Linked DNA regions of Homo sapiens. The protein of the gene in region 1 interacts with the protein of each later gene in a biochemical or structural test. Each region holds a gene or a part of one and is shown on either strand. Other genes may lie near its edges.

Evidence for each region. The genes of interacting proteins can lie anywhere in the genome.
Region 2: the proteins of SMYD3 (region 1) and MAP3K2 are reported together in a solved structure, tested with the Homo sapiens proteins (2 studies listed by BioGRID and IntAct, with this or other methods).

Annotation. Positions count from the first base shown.
Region 1 is NC_000001.11:246,504,264-246,512,007, forward strand, and holds the start of SMYD3 (histone-lysine N-methyltransferase SMYD3), read right to left. Parts: upstream 3,017-7,744; 5' UTR 2,955-3,016; coding exon 2,791-2,954; intron 1-2,790. UniProt on the Homo sapiens protein: Histone methyltransferase. Specifically methylates 'Lys-4' of histone H3, inducing di- and tri-methylation, but not monomethylation. Also methylates 'Lys-5' of histone H4.
Region 2 is NC_000002.12:127,321,971-127,328,995, forward strand, and holds part of MAP3K2 (mitogen-activated protein kinase kinase kinase 2), read right to left. Parts: intron 4,848-7,025; coding exon 4,717-4,847; intron 3,838-4,716; coding exon 3,758-3,837; intron 2,272-3,757; coding exon 2,204-2,271; intron 2,025-2,203; coding exon 1,932-2,024; intron 283-1,931; coding exon 76-282; intron 1-75. UniProt on the Homo sapiens protein: Component of a protein kinase signal transduction cascade. Regulates the JNK and ERK5 pathways by phosphorylating and activating MAP2K5 and MAP2K7. Plays a role in caveolae kiss-and-run dynamics.

The DNA of each region.
Region 1 (7,744 bases):
ATGAGGTGATTTCATTGTTGTAGGAACATCATGGTGTATCCTCACACAAACCCAGACTGTACATACAGCCTGCTACACACCTAGGCTAGCAGGTATTGTCTGTACTGCCTACTGCTCTGAGGCTATAAACCTGCACCGCGTGTTACTGTACTGAATACTGTAGGTAACTGTAAAACAATGGTAAGTATTTGTGTATCTAAATGTACCTAAACACAGAAAAAGTACAGTTAAAAAATGATATAATCATACAGGGCCACTGTCATGTATCTGGTCTTTCGCTGACCAAAATGTCGTTATGCAGTGCATGACTGTAATTATCATCAATATCTGTTTTTTTAATTCTATTTTGATTTTTCCTTTCCCATGTAACTGTTAATTGCTACAAACTAACATTTTCATTCCATACTTAATTCAGATGGAAGGCAGCAGAAGGACAGGGGCAGTTAGGAGGAAAATTCTGCCAGACATTCATACTAAAACTAAGGGCTTACTATGTGTTAGACACTGGGGCTACAAAAACTGAAAGATGCACTATTCTTAAAGACTTCACAATGGACAGTGAATAAAGAGAAACAAATTTTACTTACAAGATGACAAGTAATACAGAAACTTATCCCTCAAGGACAGGCATTCAACAGTGGCAGAAAACTGCATCAAACAATGCGCTAACATTTCCCTAACACTATTTTCAGGTTGCAGTGATTCCCAACCAGGCTCTTTGGAACACTATAACCACTAAAATGGGAGTGTTCAAACAGAGCAACTACTACCACAACACAAGTGAACTGTGTATCCTGGCAATCCAAAGTAAGTGCAAATATTTTGTGTCTGTGTAAAATACTAGTAAGTATTTGTCAGTCATTATGAAGAATCTGTTTAGCTTGTTTTGTTTAGATGCTTAGCATTTACTTATATCCCTTTTTCTATGTTTATGTTTGCTGATTTCCCCACTGGATAACTATCGGTGGGAAGTAGAGTGAGCCTGCCTTCTATCTTAAAAGCCAAAAAGGCTAAATACCGTCTCAACCTCCCTCGCGCTAGGGGTGCAGGCAGTGACCTAAGTTTAGCCAATCCAAGACACTCACTGAGGACTTTGAATAAAAGCCAGTATCACAAAGAAGAATGGTTGAGAGAATCACTCTCCAGCAACAGTGAGTTTCCCAAGGAGCAGCAGCAGCAGCAGCACCAGGGTCCAGTGTCTATGGTGTTCGTGGTACCTACTGCAGAATCCAATATTATCAGGCGACAGAAGTGATATACACCCCAGATCCCAGCCCCAGCTACTTTTGCAGTGCAATCCTAACTTGGTTCAGCCGATGCCCAGTCAAGTCTTGGCAGACTTTAAAGCAACACTGAGAACTCCCCCAAAACTCTTTCATTAAATTCCTTTTTTGCTTAAATCCCCAGTTACTGCAAACAGGAAAAATGAATGAGACTAATGAAATAGTATGGTAAATCAACAAGCATCCCACCCACAAAGGGTTTGTGTAGCTTATTTTGGAAATGCACAATTCCGTGTGTCACAAGACTCAACTTCAGCTCTAATGATTCAATTGCCAATTTGTCACCATTTATTCATTCCAAAACTTTTCTGTTCCAAGAACTATCTTGAAAGGAACGAATTGTTTTCAACCACACAGTTTACAAAAACTTCAAGATGCTGCTCTCTCCCGAACAGATGTTTTCGCTGTTATCATTACTTCAGAAAGCAACAGACAAAATTATTATTTGGTAGCTCTAAAATGCAAAGTCATATTCCTGAATTATGAATCAAATGAGAACAAAGTAAGAACAATGGTCAAATTACAGATACGAGTTTTGCACTTACCGTCCCACCTCCACCCACCTAAATCTCAGACTGGCAGGTCTGAAAAGCGGCCATGCACAAAATCATCGCACTCATCTCAAAATAGAACTCTTCTTCCTCGCACACAGAAGCTCAATAATATTTGTTGACTGAATGCAGTTCCTATTATTCATGTATGTTACACATTTCCATAAATTGCTTTCACATAGCACTTTACACCGGCACAGCGCGTCCAGGCTTCCAAAACACCTTCACGTGAATCCCTGCATCTAGAATGGTGGTTAAGAGTTAGACATGCCTGCACAGCCATTAAATGGCACAGCACACGGGGGACCCGTGTCTGATGCTCCCACAGCACATTAATTGCCCCTCTATTTCAGCCCTTCTGGTACACTGTAATTCTCTCTCTCACTTGATCAGCTCTTTGAGGAGGTCCCGTTCCTCTTCGTATCCCCAGGCCACACACAACCCAGACCACAGAGGTGCACCGTAGACATCAAGATTCTTCCACCTGCTGCAAGCCTGATGCTTTACCGGCGGGGCCTCTGCAGGGGAGCCTGATTTATACTCATCCCAGCTCCCACCCAGCCCCACGCCCGCCACGTGTGATTTCCACAGCCGCACCAAGGAAGACTGTCCAGCACACAGACTTTTCGTCTCCCAGCAAAATTATCCCCGGCACAACGCTTCCCCCTCAAGTCTGCCCAATGGCTTTCCCATTTCCACCGCAGCCCAGGTTGGGGGGCAGTGGCTGAGCCTGGGCCCCCTCCCAGCCCCGCTGCGGCAACCTAGGGGGGTGTCCGGGCGGGGCCTGTCAGCAGCGACCCGCCCCCGGGCACACGCGCGTCAGGGGCAGCACCGCCAAGCTGCCTGTGCAGCCCCATCCAGCAGGAGTCCCGCGGCTGCCGGCCGCCCGACGCCCCCCCCTCCCCAGCACCCCACACAGCTCGCGACTCAGGTAGGCGAGGGCGCTCCTTACGCACCCGAGAAGGCAGCGGTCGCAGACGACGCCACGACTCCCCTTGCACACCGTGTACGCCAAGGGATCCGAGCGGAAGAGTAGCTCTCCGGGGCGCAGCGGGGTCACGGCGCGCAGCCCGTTTCCCCTCTTGGCGGTTGCGAACTTTTCCACCTTCAGCGGCTCCATCCTCCCGCAGCTCCGGCACCTCAGACGGCTACCCGCGTCCAGCAGCGGGCGTCTCACGGGCTGCCGGGACCCGCGCGCCTGCGCCCTGCGCGCACACGTACGCCCGAGGGGCGGGGCGGGCGCGGTGGGGCAAGAGCATGCGCAGATGGAGTCTGGAGGGACGGCTGGAGTGGAGTGTGTGGGACCTGAAGGTGGTCGTAAGGCTCCGCGTGCGGCTCGTGCCCATGGCGACTGCGCAGAAGACAGGCGGGGTTTTTTTTCTCCCTCTAACATTGTATTACGATCATTTTAACGCATACGGAACAGTTGAAAACAGTGCAGTGAACACCTATATACCTCCGCCTAAATCAGACAACCTAGCACTTTGCCATTTCTGCTCGTCACTCTCTCCCCACCTGTAGCTATGTATACACGTATTGTCGTTAAACTATTTCAAAGTTGCAGGCATCATGACATCACAACTAGTACTTTGCACTGTAACTTTTTTTTGTTTTAGGACGGAGTCTTGCTCTGTCGCCCAGGCTGGAGTGCAGTGGCGAGATCTCGGCTCACTGCAACCTCTGACCTCCGGGTTCAAGCGATTCTCCTGCCTCAGCCTCCATAGTAGCTGGGACTACAGGCATGTGCAATCCTCCCGCCTGGGCCTCCTGACTAGATGGGACTATAGGCTCACGCCACCATGCCTGGCTAATGCTTTTTACTTTCCTCCAGAGACAGTCTACCTATGTCGCCCAGGCTAGTCGCAAACTCCTGGCCTCAAGTGAACCTGAACCTCCTGCCTCGACCTCTCGAATTGCTGGAATTACAGGTGTGAGCCACCACACCCAGCTTAATTTTCTTTTTTGTTTTTGGGGTTTGTTTTGTTTTGTTTTGTTTTTTGAGACGGAGTCTCATTCTCGCCCAGGCTGGAATGCAGTGGTACGATATTGGCTCACTGCAACCTCTGCCTCCCGGGTTCAAGCGATTCTCCTGCCTCAGCCTCTTGAGTAGCTGGGACTACAGGCGCCTGCCACCACGCCCGGCTAATTTTTGTATTTTTAGTAGAGACGAGGTTTCACCGTGTTAGCCAGGATGGTCTCGATCTAACCTTGTGATCCGCCCGCCTCGGCCTCTCAAAGTGCTGGGATTACAGGCGTGAGCCACCGCGCCCAGCCCACCCGGCCTAAATTTCTTAGTTTGGACAAACGTGCCATGGTAATGCAAAATGTCATTATTAAGGGCAGCTGGATGGAAGGTGTAGGAGTACACTATAGTGCCTTTCAATTTTTCTGTGTATCTAAAGTCATTTCAAAAGTAAACATTTATTTTAAAACATGAAGGTGGTTATGCTTCCATGAGTGTAAAGTACAAAAGGCAGGCTCGTGGTGCTGTCAGAAGTCAGAACACTGGTTTCAGGGCTGGGGGTGTTGGGAGGGGCTGGGCATGGTTGGCTTTGTGATCTGGGGGCTGGTGTGTTCCATCTGTGAATATCTTTTAAGCTGTGCACTTACCAGGGATGTAAGTCATATCTTAATAAATTTTCATAAGTTTGACAAAAAATAAAATGAGGATGGGAAGCTTGTTTGGGTTGTGGGGCCTCGGGTGCTTATCCAGCCATGAGCTGTGTCCCAGATGCTTCTAGAAGCCTGGAGGGAGCTGAGAACATTCCAAGTCGAGGTGGCAGAGCCAAGGCCCTGAGGTGGGAGCGCAATGCTGCACATCCCCAGCTGTGAATGGGGTGTCCTGGTCAGAAGCAGTGCTGTGTGCACTGCAGGGCCGGCAAATCCACGTCCACATTGTGGCTTGGTGCAGTGAAAGCCAATCTCAGCCCCCTCCACAGTGTGATTAGCCTGCCAGCAGGTGGCCAGCTGGTCCTCCTGGGAAATGGTGCCAACCCAGAGACTGGGTGCAAGTGTCTCATCCACGGAGGGGCGCTCAGCAGTGGTGTCAGCCTGGTGAGCCTCGGTAAGGGCACGTGCAGGATGCTGAGCCTCTTCCGTTCCCATGCCCGTCTCAAGGCCACTTGCTCCGTGGGCCCATCCAGCAAGCATGGTGGCCAGGAAAGAAGCCGGCTCCATTCACAGGGCGTGCTGTTTTGCTCACCTCAGGACCAAGAGCATCCTCCATAGTGATTCTCTTTGGTGGGAGCACTAGAAACATGAACCACAGATACCTTCAGCGTCTGAGCCGCTGAGGCGAGGGCTGCAGGACACCCTGCTGTCGGGAAACCCTGCACTGGCGGCTGGAAGGCATGTGGTGGTGGCGCCTGCTGTGGCTGCAGCAGTTGCTGCGAGGCTTCGGGATCTCGCCGGCCCCTGCGAGGTGAATTGTGACAGTGCAGAGCTCCGTGGTACCAGGGCCCCCTGCATGGCCATGCTGACTGCAGCTGGGAGCCCACCACACCTCTGGTTCCCCGCTCTTCCCAGGGCTGGGGTCTAGGCCAGGCCCCTCTTGGCCTGCGAATTGTGCCCTGGGAGGGGGACACTGTTCCACAGGTTGGGACCAAGGACCCAGGGCATGCTACTGGCTGGCTGGGCTGCAGGGATGCCATGCTCACCTTTCTCTCTCATGGCCTTGACGGGACCGGCTTCCTCATTGAACAGCATTTTCCAAGGTGTCTGGGATTGCTGGTGGGGTGCCACCCTGGCTCCTTCTAGGCATGCCCGTCATTGGCCACCAAGGGGGCCAGATGCAGGTGCCCATGCTGCTGTGGGGGCATCTCCCAACTTCCCTCTTAGTCCTGATGGGCCTAGGCAGGGCCTGATATGGGGGTCCCCATGGGCTTCCGGGGCTAAGCCTGCCCCATGGTCCCAGGGCTGTCCAGGACACATTCAGAAGGGACATGAGCTCAGCAGCTCTGTTTGAAATTATTATGGAACCAAGGGCCCCCCACATCCAAGTCCACTGGGAGTCGGGACATGGAGTTCCGCTGCAGGTACCTCCAGGAACCCCGAGGTCCTCCTTGAGCCAAGGCCAGGCTGGGCACACCATAAGTCCTGGGTCCCCCAGAGAATGGCCTGCTGCCCTGGGCTCCCCAGAAGCCCCCTCACGCCCCTGGGCCTTGGCCACATGGAAGCCCCACCAGGACAGGTGTGAGAGGACAAGGAACCCATGGTGGGGAAGCAGACCAAATGGGCCGCTGGAACCAGGCTGGTGGGCCAGGGGGCACCTGCCCATCCCCCTTGCAGAGGGCCTTCCTGCCACGTGAAGCCAGCACAGCCCTGGCTGCTGAGGACCCTTGCCTGGGTTTGGCTGAAAGAAAAACAGACGTGATCAGGCAGCACCTCCAGTGGGCCCAAAGAGTCCTTTCTGGGCCGGGCCCCACCTGCCTGGGTCTCCGGAGTCCTCAGGGTCTCTCGGTGGCCCCTGGGGTCTGACACTGAGGACACACCTGCAGGCTGCTGATCCCAGAGGGAGGGGTGTGTGTCACCTGGGGTAGGGAAGCTGTCGGGGCACAGCAGGTGGCTCCTGGGACTGCCCCCCAGGATTCAGGCTGGCTGGGGGCTTCCTGCCCCATGCCCTCATCCCAGGGCTGTTGGGCCTGGTATATGATCCCCAGTCAGAACTCAGGTGGGAGGGGCCTTGGCTGTCACCCAGCCCCCTTGCTACCTCACTTGGGGACCTGTCTCTACCATGAGTAAGAGGGCCCAGATACGGGGCCCCCTCTGCCCTCCTGGGCTGCCCGGTCCATGCCAGGACTGACCATTCCCACACCTGGCTGAACTCTTGGCTCTGGCTCTGGGCCAGGGGTCCCACCTGTGCCCTTGCCCTGAAAGCTCTGGGGGTCAGGGACACCGACTCCCTTGTCTCCCTGGCTCAAGGCTCGTTGTCCTGGCACCCTTGGAGGGATGTTCAGGAGTGAGGGGCCTCTGCTGCTCTCTGAGGCTGTCAGTGCTTGCAGGGAGGGGTGGGGGGGGTCCCACAAATGGGTCTGGCTCCTCCAGTGCCGTCAAGGGCCCTGTTGGGGGGGGGCGGGACACCGTGGAAAGTGGGAGGGGGCTTGTTGGAGAGGTCTTGCCCACATCCCCCTCCTGCGTGCACAGCATGTGCAGTGCACATGCACTGAGCACCTGCCCTGAGGACCGGGGGCCTATTGTCTTTCTTAGAGTCCAGGAGGAAAAGGAGGAAGAAAAGGCACAAGAGGAAGGCCCAGGTAGTAGGCTTGGGGGTCCCGGGCGCTCCCCCACTATTGACTGCCCCAGAGGGTGACTCAGGAGGGGGCCTGGTATGGAAGCCCATCTGGGGGTGGCAGGTCCCCATTCTTCCTTGTTAGCTTCCTCGTAGAGGCCCAAGGGTGCCCGAGAGCTGCGTCTTCATCCAGGGCCTAGGTATGGGAGAACCAGCCCCCAAAACTGCCCATGGGCCAGACCTGGATGTCTTCATGAGGCCCTCTAGGGATAGGGTGGGCATCAGGCCAGGAGAGTTCCCTGGGAGGGTCAGAGCCCATACCTCATTGCCACCTCAACCGTCTCCCACTGGGAGGTGCCAGATCCTTTTGTGGCCACCCCAGGGGTCCAGATGTGCATAGGAGGCTGTGGCTGGGGGTGGCCTGGGCAGGGAAGTGCTCACCACACTCCAGACTTTCATCTGGAACATGTCGGGGGTGGGCTTGGTGTCACTGTGCCCTGCCCAGCCCACCCAGCCAGACCTCCCCCTGGGCCAGAGCAGAGGATCATGGGGACAGTGTGAGGAAGCTGCCCTCAGGCCAGTCCGAGTCTGACCCCAGTGCTCCCCAGTGCCATTGGGCACACGTGGACTTACTCCATTAAACCTTAAAGGCAGTGCATGCCATCGGCATCAACACCTGTTCC
Region 2 (7,025 bases), on another chromosome or scaffold:
TTTATTCCTTTTAATAATATAAAATTCTGCAAAGATTCTGCTCTACATTTCACTATACCAAGTTCTATTACTTACAACGGCTGGGTGGGCTGATGTCCATTACGGTCAAAGTAGGATTGTCTATGTCACTTCCCCTTCTTCTTATTCGACTATCATCATACTCTGGGGTAAAGATACTGCTTCCACTACTAGTGCTTAAGGAATGATCAGTAGGACTGAAACTCACAGGAGACCGTAAGCTGGTCCCCTGGGTCCTTCTAGCTCTTGGAAAAGTTTTACGACCTAAAAAATGAAAAGAGAATGACCTTATACCTTTTATTAATATGTTATACTTTTAAAGTATTTAAAATTTGTAATGTAGAGAATAGAAATTTGTCCTGTGACTAGGCTAAGAAACTCAAATAGGAATGATTGGGTGGGAAAAAATAAACAGGATCTGAATACAAATTCAAATAATCTCTTATGATAAAACATGTATGAGTGTGCACACAGAAACATACACACACACATCTTAAAAAGGAACCTCCTCACTTCTGGATAAAAAGGAGGAAAAAAATTTACTCTCATTTCCAATAATGATTTTAAAATCTAAAACAAAGATGCAGAAGTTCACAGGTAGTAATTTTTTTCTTTTCTTTTTGAGATGGAGTTTCACTCTTGTTGCCCAGGCTGGAGTGCAGTGGTACAATCTCGGCTCACTGCAACCTCCGCCTCCAGGGTTCAAGCGATTCTCCTGTCTCAGCCTCCCAAGTAGCTGGGATTACAGGCGCCCACCACCATGCCCAGCTAATTTTTTGTATTTTTAGTAGAGACGGGGTTTCATCACGTTGGCCAGGCTGGTCTCATACTCCTGACCTCAGGTGATCCACCCGCCTCGGCCTCCCAAAGTGCTGGGATTACAGGCATGAGCCACCGCACCTGGCCAGTAATTTTTTTTCTTAAAGGGATGATGTAAGTATCAATCTCATCATCAAAGAGTAATTTTCTAATATCATTTAAAAGTTACTCCTTTTGGATGGGTGCAGTGGCTCATGCCTGTAATCCCAGCACTTTGGGAGGCCAAGGCAGGCAGATCACTTGAGCCCAGGAGTTCGAGACCAGCCTGGGCAACATGGCAAAACCCCATCTCTACTAAAAATACAAAAATTAGGCCGGGCACGGTGGCTCACGCCTGTAATCCTAGCACTTTGGGAGGCCAAGGCAAGTGGATCACTGGAGATCAGGAGTTTTGAGACCAGCCTGGCCAACATGGCAAAACCCCATCTCTACTAAAAATACAAAAATTAGCCAGGTGAGAATCGCTTGAACCCAGGAGGTGGAGGGTGCAGTGAGCAGAGATCATGCCACTGCACTCCAGCCTGGGTGACAGAACAGAGTGAGACTCTGTCTCAGGGGAAAAAAAAAAAAGAAAGAAAGAAAATTACTCCTTCTTGGCCAAGTGCAGTGGCTCACACCTGTAATCCCAGCACTTTGGGAGGCTGAGGCAGGAGGACCGCTTGAGCCCAAGACTTCAAGACCAGCCTGGGCAACATGGTGGGACACTGTCTCTACAAAAAAAATTTTTTAATTAGCTGGGTGTGATGGCAAATGCCTGTAATGGCACACACCTGAACTCAGGAAGCCAAGGCAGGAAGATCACTTGAGCCCAGGAATTTAAAGTTACAGTGAGCTAAGATCATGCCACAGCACTCCCGCCTGGGCAACAAAACCTTGTCTCTTAAAACAAAAAATTATTCATTTTCTTTTAAGGGATAACCAAGTCTTATAAGTTGTCATAAAGCCAAAATGCCCATTATACTTTTGTTATAACACAATTCCTCATATTTTTCTAATGGTATTAACACAAATATGAGGTTTTAAAAAATTTTTGTATTTATTTTTGTTGTTGAGATTTTTTAACTATTCTTGTGGTCTAATTGCTAGAAACTTACCATCATTATACTCTTGATGATGATATGAAACATGATACCTTCTTGGATATGTTCCTCCTTTTCCAAATTTCTCAAAGATAGGGTTATCATAGTCTGTTAAGACATATAAGATGGTTATCTTTTATTTAAAAAAAAAAGTTAAATATTTCTAATGATGAAAAGCACATTTATAAATCTTTATTTGACTTTTCAAAAATCCCCCCTCTCCCTCCCAGCCAAAACATTATCCAATGACATAAACATTTAAACATTTAGAATTTATAAAGTCTAACCTGAAAATTCCTGATGATTATCTGGGTAGCTCTGAGCCCTAGGCATTCGTGATTTTGGATAGCTCTCTCTATAAAGAAAAAACATCACATTAAGTTTACAGAAAGAACGTAAGACATTAAAAAGAAAATCTTTGAGCAATATCTATATCTATCTGTGCCTCTCTGTATGTGTTTGTGTAAAGGAGCTCACTTTGAAAGGTTAGCATACCTAAAAAAGAAAAACTACACTTACTTGGTACATGTAGGCAAAGAGCATGACTTAAAATTAACCTTACAGTACAGTGGAAGAATGACGTATTTTGGAATCATTAGGTGTTTCTAAGCACTGTGTTTCAATCCAAGCTCTGCCACTTAACTATGTAACCTTGGCAAATCACCCTTCTGCATCAACAAAAAAGATAATTTCCAACTATTCAAGTGTACATAAGTAAGGTATCCAGGATAGTGTTTTGCAAATGGTAAGTACTCAAATATATAGCTTTCTCGTTACTACTTCCCTGAATTTCTTAAATGTCTACCTTAAGATAGACATTGACACAGACAGAAATTTCATATACATGGATAAAAGAAACTTAAATGTGCATTCCCACGCAATATTAGTTATTTTTTTCAGAATTTGCTTTCATAAAGCAATTCCAGAGAGGATTACCAAGAATACTGTCCTATTGAGACCAGGAGGGGGAGCACGTGTAACAAAAAATTCACATTTTGCAACTTTATCCTGCTCATATTCCTGAACAGCTTTTTCACAAAAGTACTTAAATTTTTGCCTACATGTACCAATGTGACACAGTGGGCTACAATTTCCAAGAATTTAAATTATTTCTAATCTGGTGCCAGAATGAACATAATCCTGAACAGGTGAAATAACTCAGGAAATTTCCAAAACCAAACATATTAATGTAAAAGTTGATAGCACTTTTCATAAACACAGTTTTAAAAGTAAATGTACATAAATTCTAAATTTGATTTGCCTTCAAACACACAATTTTGACAAGCAGGAATACTCAAACTATTATAATCAGATTTCCTTTTAACTAACAAAGATACTGAGTCCCATGAGGTAAAGGGATTTATCCACACTGTGCAAAAATTCATCTGCCGTCATCATACACAAGTACCAATTCTATTCCTCTGAATGTAGCACAAAAAAGTTACTGATAATTCAACATTCTATCTGTATGAATATTTACTCATATCTATTAAAAAAGAAAACTACAGTAAGCTGAGCATGGTGGCTCATGTGTGTAATCCCAGCGCTTTAGGAGACCAAGGCAGGAGGTTCGCTTGAGCCCAGGAGTTCAAGATCAGCCTGGGTAACAAAGTGAGACCCCCATCTCTACAAATAATACAAACAAAATAGCCAGATGTGGTATTAATAGCAAATGCCTTTGGTCCTAGTTCCTCGGGGGTCAGAGGTGGGAGGACTGATGGAGCCAAGGAGGTCAAGGCTGCAGTAAGCCGCATTCACGCCACTGCGCTCCAGCCTGGGTGACAGCAAAACTCTGTCTCAAATAAACAAATAAACCCTCCAAAAACTACGATAAACATTACCCATCCAAAGGACTATCAAGTGATGGACAACTTCCTGAGCCAGAATTTTCAGGGCTGCTTAAAGATAATGGATCCAGCATCTAGGAAAAAAAGGAGTTCCACCATGATTCAATTTGATATAACCAAAAGTTGCTTATTAAAAAAACCTGCCTTAATTAGACATACTTCATGTAACATAAAATTCACCCATTTAAAGTATACAAGTCAAGGCTTTTAGAATACTGAGAGTTGTGCAACCCTCACTCACAATTTTAGAACAATTCCATACTCAATAGTGGTCACTCTCCAGAGTTACTCATTTTCAAATGTCCCTTGTAAGCAAGCCACGACTTCAAAATTTCCTAAGAGAAAAATATTCTTTCTCTATAGACTATTGACTAAATAATTAAAAGCTACAATATTTCACACTATTTTGCTTACTGAAAACTGAACAATGGCCCCACCCAAACTGAGACTAATGACACTATGACTATTACATTATTAGAAAATGTAAACTACTATAATAGTGTGAACATATAATGCGATGCAATGCAATGTTAAGGGAATAACAGCAACTCCATGAAAACATTTTAATACTATAAAATTGAAGTATTTTTTAAATGTTTCAGAAAGTTCACAAACCTCAGTTTCACAAAGGTAAATATTTGTAGTTTCATTCTATCTTTCAAATGTTTAAAAAAAAAATCTGGCTGTTAAATTACAAAGCAAATGCATTATCATTCACTCACTCTCATTCATTCACTTATTGAGCAATATAAAACCAGCTGTATTCCAGCTTTCTTTATACAGGCACATGTAAATTAATGGGCATTTTCCTATATTTTTTCTATTTTGTTCAGTTAAGAAGATATGTAATTAGAGAAGAGATAATACACACACACACCCAGTTACGTGCCAAATCACACTGACCCTGACAACATCTCTTTAAATTAAATTTAAAAAATCAAACTTTTGCTTACTTGGTCCATGCTCTCTGGAATGAACTCTCCTTCACTGTTGATACTAGTGAATGACCCATTCCGGGCAACCTGGTGTAATTCATCTGGAATGTAACCTGGGGGAGGAGAACTTCTATCTCTACTAGTAGGACCTCAAGGAAGAAAAATAATGTAATTTATAATTATAGGCAAGGGAATCAAGTTTTGTTTTAAATAGGCTATATTTCTGAATTATATCATTAATAATTTCAGCAAAAGAAAATTCAATTTTTATTAAAACTTATCAGAACATTCATTTGTAAATCTTCAAATGGCTTTATAACCTTTGTAAATTCCCACCCTATCATAATTATTAACCTCACCATAATATTCATTTATACTCACTAGGTAGGATGGTATTCTGACTGCTGATAGGATGATAATACAATATAGATTTCTGGCATTAAGACAGTTTATTTAAGTAATCACATTTCTTATGAGACAATAACCCACTCTATTTTACTTGGTTCTGTGGAAATGATGCTATATTTATTAGTACAGTGTCTCACCTTTCCTCATAGTTTTTTGAAATTAAACTATGTGAGCATTTAAGTTCTGGTCCAATTTAAAGCAAAAAACATTTTAGCCTTATGTAAAGGAGTCATTGTGAGTATATGCAAGCATTTGTTAGTGAGACAGGGAGGAAAAAGAAAGCAAAATTATTACCAAGACATGTGCATAAAAGAGAGTACTGTCTACACTTGTCTGTAAAATGATTAGGAGCTCAATTTGAGTCAGGATTGATTTAGGCTTCATAACAACTGTAGCCACAATAATACTGGTCCCTAATATTTTTATTCCTTCCATATACCCGTGCTTACAAAAGATCAATATAGTCAATTACTAAAAGGAGATAGGACCAAAAAAAAAAAAAAGCTATGAAAATTTTGTCTCCTTATTTGACAACCCTTTTTCACAGTAATGCGTATGCCAACGCACTCTTGGTTGAGACCTGTTTATCAGCATACACTCCTAACCTAAAGGAGTTTTTCCTCCATCTCCCTTTTATAAAAACAATTAAAAAGAATAACTGCCAACATATAAGAAAAATAGATAATGGTCATATCTAGCAAAGCCATTCCAAGTTTAAAGCAGTGCCAATAAAAGACCACTAATTCTATACTTTATGATTTCCAATTTCTTCTTATGCTGGCACTGACGTCAAACAAGAATATTTATTAGAATAAGACTGAGGTATTCAGTGTAATTTTAATTCAAAATATATTTAAAATGTCAATTTAACTAGTACATTTAGCTTGTTTTGTCTAATGCAACTAAAGTGAATTAGAGCTGGGCACTGTGGCTCACGCCTGTAATCCCAGCACTCTGGGAGGCCAAGGTGGGTGGATCACATGAGGTCAGGAGTTCGAGACCAATCTGGCTAACAGGCTGAAACCCCATCTCTACTAAAAATATAAAAATTAGCCAGGCATGGTGGCGGGCGCCTGTAATCTCAGTTATTCAGGAGGCTGAGGCAGGAGAATCACTTGAACCCAGGAGGCAGCGGTTACAGTTAGCTGAGACCGCGCCACTGTACTCCAGCCTGGGTGACGGAGTGAGACTCTGTCTCAAAAAATAAATAAAATAAAGTGAATTAGCAATTTTTTAAAAAATGACAAGTACCGTAATGTGATAAGAAATGGGGATAAAGAAAGAAATGTACAATGAACATCTGAGCTTTGTACAATGTACAAAATGTATAAATGTACAATAAGCTTTCTAGTTTGAAAAGTAAAATGTACAAGTGTTCTCTCAATTTAATGCTACAACAATCCCATGATTTAAAGATGAAGACACATTTACTGGTCTCAGGTTCATCAGAGAGCTGGAATTTGAATTTGGGTGTTTCAAATGTTCTTTCACCAAATTTTAAAACTATATCGAAATATATCTGAATGCAAAAGACAAGCCATTTGTATTTTGCTTGTGTATCACCTCTGCTGCTCGCATTTCTGCATTCCTGAAACCCAAAGTAGGACTTATTTAAGACAGACACTTCGAAGAGAATGGTCATAAAATAGCTTCTTCTGGGGACCAAAAGAGAACATGAATAATGTCTATTTTTTTGATGGTCCACATGCCAATTCAATTTTTTCTTTGATTATCAACAATCCTCTTCTGTTACCAATCTTTTTTAGATTCCCAACCACATTTGTTTTTCCTCCTCTTTAACTTTTCTCTTTTAAATCCGCCCCTCATACATGTTTTCATGCCATCTTTAATGGCCATACTCACTGCCCTCTCTCAAAGAACATTTATACCAGCGGTTTTTTGAAACAATGTTAATGCTT